2 linked regions of the Homo sapiens genome follow. The protein of the gene in region 2 interacts with the protein of the main gene of each other region in a pairwise test. Each region holds a gene or a part of one and is shown on either strand. Other genes may lie near its edges.

The links.
Region 1: the proteins of ART3 (region 2) and ALCAM interact in a two-hybrid assay, tested with the Homo sapiens proteins (one large-scale study listed by BioGRID and IntAct).

Annotation. Positions count from the first base shown.
Region 1 is NC_000003.12:105,574,940-105,577,519, reverse strand, and holds the end of ALCAM (CD166 antigen isoform 1 precursor), read right to left. Parts: 3' UTR 620-2,580; downstream 1-619. UniProt on the Homo sapiens protein: Cell adhesion molecule that mediates both heterotypic cell-cell contacts via its interaction with CD6, as well as homotypic cell-cell contacts. Promotes T-cell activation and proliferation via its interactions with CD6.
Region 2 is NC_000004.12:76,081,121-76,084,954, reverse strand, and holds part of ART3 (ecto-ADP-ribosyltransferase 3 isoform a precursor), read right to left. Parts: intron 3,132-3,834; coding exon 2,420-3,131; intron 1-2,419.

The sequences.
Region 1 (2,580 bases), on a different chromosome or scaffold from region 2:
GCAAGGATTCAGATCTAGTTTGATACCCAACTTATCTACTTTGAAGCTAACGGCATTTGGGAATTATGAAGTTTCTCTAAACCTCAGGTTTTCAGCTGTTAAATGAGGGGGATATTTAGTACTATTTACAACTGTTAACTGTTAAGCGTTAATGTATGAATGACCCTAGCACATAGTATGGGCTCAATAAATGTTAATTTCCTTCTCTTATGTACACAGCTGGCTTTACCTTATTTTGGAGGGAATATATTTTCTGAAAGTTCAGGCCTGGGTAATTCCAAATGACAATCTGAATAGAATGTTATTGGCAGAAGTGAACAAATATGAAAATGTTCTCGTAATTAAGGTCCTAGGAGAGTTACATGGGACACCCAAGAGTAAGTATGATCCTATCTTTGAAGACAGATGCATTATAGAATCTATCACTGGTGAAATCTAGGGACTAGCTAAGGTAGCCCACCTGACCTAGTAGGAAGGCATGGTGAATTTTATTTTTCTGCACTCCTTCTCTGGAAAGATGGAGAGTCACAGTGAGTTTTCCACTATTTGATAAAGACAATCACTTTCCACACATGAACATTCTACTTTAGACAAGAGTCAGACAGCTGTGGGAGACCTGTGAAGACATATTTCAGTTTTATTATCTTTTAGGCATAGACGGGTATGTTAATCCATTTCCACAAACAATTCCTATAATCACATATAGGGAGTGAACCTTGAACTTGCAAAACCTGTTTCCTGTTGCCAAAGAGTTAAATTGGAGAGCCGAAACCTCAAAAGTTGAGGATTTGGAATTCTTTTTCTTCTTAGCATCTTCGTGCATGTGGCTGCCATTAAACAAGTAAGCTTTCCTCTTTATCCAGGCACTGAATCGATGGTAATAATGTTGTCTTTTTTTTTCCCGGCAAACTTTCTGCTTTCGGTCCAGAGCTCTGAGTTTCTCATGTTCTGCTCTCGAGGTTCTGACAGCTGTTTTTGGACTTAATTAACCATTGCAAGTGGAAACCAAGAAATAATTGTAGCATAACTCTCTCTATTGTCATGTTGCTTCTTTCTGCAAATATATCTTAGAAGTTAGACTTTAAACCTTTGATCTCCCACACCAAAAGAGAAAATAATATTTATATGGAAGTAATTTTATTTTAGTGTTTGTGATTTATTGTGGAGAGCAGGTGTTTAAAAATTTTAGAATTTCTTTAACAAAATTCTAAAGAGAAAATAAAAAAGAAATCACAGTATTTACAGAGATAACAGAATGGCTTAGCCATGCAAAACAAATAACTTTGGTTTTTCCCCTTTTACTTTGGTTTAAATGTTGACCAAGATTCAATTTTTTTTCCTGCCAAATAAAACTTCAATAAAAGTTTAGAGGCAAAATAACGTATTTTCTTTTTTTCCCATAATATTTTATACAGCATCGAGTCTAAGAATATTTTATGCATTTAATCCATACCAATGCACTACGGAAGCTTTTATTAAACGGAGTCACTATTGCCCAGACAGTAAATGGTTTACAAATGTACAATAACGTATGTTTCTAAATAATGCAGAAGTGGCAAAGTATTATTCCTATTCTCATCTGACTTTAATTTTCAATTTATTTTTCATTGCCTTCATAATTTTTTATTTCATGAGTCTAAGAAACAAACACCAGTTTTCCTTTTCCTTTCAATAACATAGTTCTATACCTAGAAATCTGATGTTCATTTATCTTCCCTTTAAAGTTGTGTAAATCCTGGGAAAGAAATCGCTGTGCAGTGTTCTCCCAGAAACCAGGCTTCTGCTTGAAAGAGCAAAGTTTAAAAGTCTAGTCACAAGTAGCCCATATCTGGTCTACTTCAAAAAGTTTCCATTTATACTACCACCTTAAAAATTTCCTCAAGCATAAAACATGTTTATAAAGTTACAAATTTGAATGTAACTAAAGATACATAGACATTTTATTATTACACTTTCATGTACTGCTTGATAAATTATGTATCAGTTAAAAACACTAAATTATCTCAAGGTGCATTCAATATCTGTAGGGTAGTTAACAAAAACACACACGAAAAAAATATATATTCTATATTCTGTGGAAAATAACACAGCTTTGATAATGACCACTGTTAAAAACTCCAATTCTGATTGATATCTTTTTAAACATGAAATAGGTATAATTTTAAGGCAGTGGATAACCCAAAGGATTTAACACCAATTTGTAATTATAGTGATTTACATTGTGATCTATGAAAATGGGAATGTTGACCATGATTTTTCCAAACTGTCTCTCACACATGCTTGTGTTTTTTCTTTTGACAGAAAATAATTTATTAGCAGGTGTCTGTAGAGGTAAGTGCTACCAAATTCTGTTTTATGTCTTTTTCAGAATAGGTAAAATTGTCAGTTTGGGAGTACCATTATGTATGTGTGTCTATATGCATCTGTGATTTATTTCTGAGAGTTCGCTGGTGGCATATCAAAGAGTCGGCTCCTATGGTGTCTATCAGTCTGACTCTCGGCCTCCCCTCCCTTGTGATAAAAATCACAGTTTTTAATTAGGGCAATATGAGTGTCCCCAATCTTCACAAGCTGCCACCT
Region 2 (3,834 bases):
TAAAATACAATATATTTTGAACCTATGCAGGATTGGTACGAGAGTACTGCTGTCCTTCCAGGACTCAACAAGAAGAACACCTGGGTATGTCACACCACATTCAGGAAAGCCCAAAGCTATGGCTTCTCCTCAAGTATTTATAGTTCATTCACAATCCTCCCAGCTCAGATGCACTTTACCAATCAAGGGTTATGTTTACCACAGGCAATGCTGTAAGGTCACACAGCTGTCATTCCACCTTTCATAGATTGCAGAGAGAGTGCTGGAAGATCACCAGGAGGCCATTTTCACAGAAGACAGGAGAAGGAGTTTACTAACCCTTTGCTCACACACACTAAGGCACAACACCATAAAATTTCAGAATGTTGGGAATAAAGAAAACAACCTAAAACCTTCCAGATTTTTGTTTTTAAAAAGTCTTATTCAAAGTTTTAGTAATTAGAATGGCTTCATACCTTTCAACAACAGCTACAGAACCTAGAAGTCACTGGAGGAATATCTTCAAAATTCCAAGGAAAAATAGTTTCTAAAATAGAAATGCAAATCTACATAAACTATTAATCAAGCTTAAAGGCAGATCTCTCAGAGATGCAGAGACTTAGAAAATTTTCTTTAGTGGACCATTTCTCCGAAACTTCTGCAGAACCCCCATCCCCACCACACCAAACAAAGTAGTAATCCAAGAAAGAGTTGCAAATCCAAGAAATAGGAGATCTCTCATAGGGAAGAAGCAATATCTCAGAATGGTAATGAGAGATTTCAGGATGTTCAGCAGGCCTAAAGAGCTTATCATAGAGCAGTATGATGAGGGAATTATCCAGGGGAAAGAAGAAATTTATATTTCTGTCAAAGGATTTGGAGGTGAATTACTGATTGGATATTAAAAAAACTAAGGAAACAAACAAAAAAATCATAGAATAACCCTGGGGTAAAAGAGGGATTTAAGCACAGAAAAACCACTCTAACTGAGCTATGACCTGTCTTTACTATGCTGGGAGAATGGGAAGGGGGAAATGGACGTACATTGGGAAGGAGGGTGTTGGCTTTCAGAAACTTTTGGTTTACTGATCTAACAGCCATTTCTAATTCCCTTTTCCTTTGTCTCCCCCACACACTATATTCCCTTGGCTGGAGAAAGGATAATTACCCCCTTCCCAAGCTTCTCTGGTAGCTATGGGTGACCAAGAAACTGTTCAAGTCAATGACCTGTAATCAGGAGTTTAGTAAGGGTTTCTGGGAAAACTTTTACTTTCCTTACTGAACAAGTAGATTTGGCTGTCATCCCCTTTACTTTCTTTTTGTCTTGGACATGGATTGATGCCTAGAGCTGCAACAGTCACAAGTGCAAACATGAATCAACAAACAAAACATGGTAAGGATGGTGGAACAGAAAGAAAGAGCATGAGTGACATGACATGGATGAGCCACTGCGCTGACTCTGAACAGCCTGCCTCTAAGACTTATTAAATGAAAGCTCAGTCAGGTTTTCTGTTATTTACAGCTGAACACATAAAAAATTCTTAACTAATACACGGTAGATGAGGGTTACATACTCATTCTCTGTAGTAGGAAGTCAATACATGATGTCTAAAGATTTAAAAACCAAGAAATAACATGTTGAAGCATGTTATTTACTTGGAAACATGACAGTAAGCACCTGAAGAAATAGCTAAAAGAATGAAAACTGGATGCCACTGAGGAGTGGAAATTGAGGAAAGGTGGGGCTGGCGACTGCTATTTTTCTTTTTCTTCTTTTTTGAGACAGGGTCTTGCTCTGCTGCAAGACTGCAGTGCAGTGGTGTGATTACAGCTCACTACAGCCTGGACTTCTTGGGCTCAAGCAATCCTCCCACTTCAGCCTCCCATGCAGCTGGGACCACAGGCATGTGCCACCATGCCTGGCTAATTTTTAATTTATTTTTATTTTAGCAGAAATGGTGGTCTCCCTATGTTTCCCAGGCTGCACTATTTATTTATTGTAAGCCTTATAGTAGGGTCTCTCAACATCAGCACTACCAACATTTTGGGCCATATAATTCTTTGTTGTGTGGGGCTGTCCTATGCATTGTCTATCAGTGTTTCTGGCCTCTACCCATTAGATGTCAGTAGCAATCCCCCTTTTCCCCAACTGTGACAACCAAAAATGTTTCTGACCATTGCCAAATGACCCTGCAGGGCAAAACTGCCTTTGGTTAAGAACCACTGCCTTATAGTGCTAATTTTTTTTAACTTTTAATAATACTGTAAATGTACAATTTTCATAAAATTAACTATGGGTAAAGAGATAGTATGAAAGAAGCTAGACGGAATGTCATTTCACCTTTCAAACACCTCTCACTCTCCTTTCACTGACCTTTCCCTAAGCCTAAGAATCCCACTCCTTCCCTCCCAGCCAAGCACAGACAGAGCAGACACTTACCACCTAGAAATGCACACTCATAATGGCTGCAGGTCTTGTTTATGCTTTGAAGGATAAGGTTATTGCCAGCCCCCTCCTGTGACACTTGAAAAACCTCATTCAGAGGTATTAAAGTAATTCTTTCACTTTCTTTATCAAGAAAATTTTCAATGTCAACTCCAAGGCATGTGTAGATGGATAACACAGTGAGCTGGTCATTAGCAGCCTGAGGTTTGGCTGAATATGCCAAGGTAAAATGGCCAAACCTGGCTTGGTTTAGCCCTCCAAATGTAAATGAAGTGCCCTGGCTTGTTCTATATACCACAGTTTTGGAACTGGCCTCACAAGGTTTTCTCAGCAACTGCAGGGCTCTTGTGAGGTAAAAGTGGAAAGCTTTGAACTGGAAGCCATAGATATAATCTTCTCGAGATTGGCCAGCCATCTTCACAGCTTCACTGAACAGATGGTAAAAGGGAGTTTGCTCTTGAGCTTCGGAAATATATGCCATCAGGGCTATTCCATGGTTATCCTTAAAATTCATAGGGAGAAAGATTTGAGTCTTTCGGGCTGCCCATTTGGCTTTTGCATTTTCCCACACAGTATCTAATTGCTGGTGGCTTGCTTTTTCCTCCTTTAGCAGTTGGGGAACGTATTTAATTTCCATCCTGTCCGTACATTTCAGGTATTCATCATCAAATGCATTATCTGCCATGTCTAACACTTCAGCCTTCACCTTCAAAGGAAAAAGAAATTAATACTCTTGAAATAAGAAATTCAGTGAATATCATTTTCTCTCACATTATTACCCCCACCTTCTCATCCCTTGCCAAAATTCTCGCCTGACTTATAACCAATTTTGGGTAGGTTTTTATGCAGGAAGTATATTCCATTGCTATTGATAACTTTTCTCAGCTGTGCCATATTTGTGTGAAAGAGTAAATGTCAGTGGGTGAGAGGTATGGGTGAGATTGTGCCTGTAGCTCATTTATCTGGACATTATGGCACAGAGCAAAGAACAATGGATGTGAAGCTAAAGAAATGGGTGGCAGTCCTGGCTTTGAACATCTTAGCTAGATTTCTTCAACCCTTCAAGGCTGTTGGGAATTTGAAGTATCATATGCAAAATATTATTCATGATCTATAACACATAATGACAAACATTACCCTTTTCCTTTGGGGTTGCCCCCTCCCTTGTCCATATGGCCTGGGTAGAAATGATTTTGCACCTCCTGGATAAGCAGGTGATCTAAAGTCTAGCAATCAGAGCTCCCAGAGGAAAAAAATGGATCTTTCTTCCTCTAAAGCTGTAAGCTCTAAGGATAATATTGGCCTAGGGCTTCCAACAGTTATTCTTTAGTCCCATGGAGAATTCTGTCTTAAAATAAAGCAACAAATAAGGCTTGCTGAGCTGAGAGGTAGAGATGAGGACCCGAAAA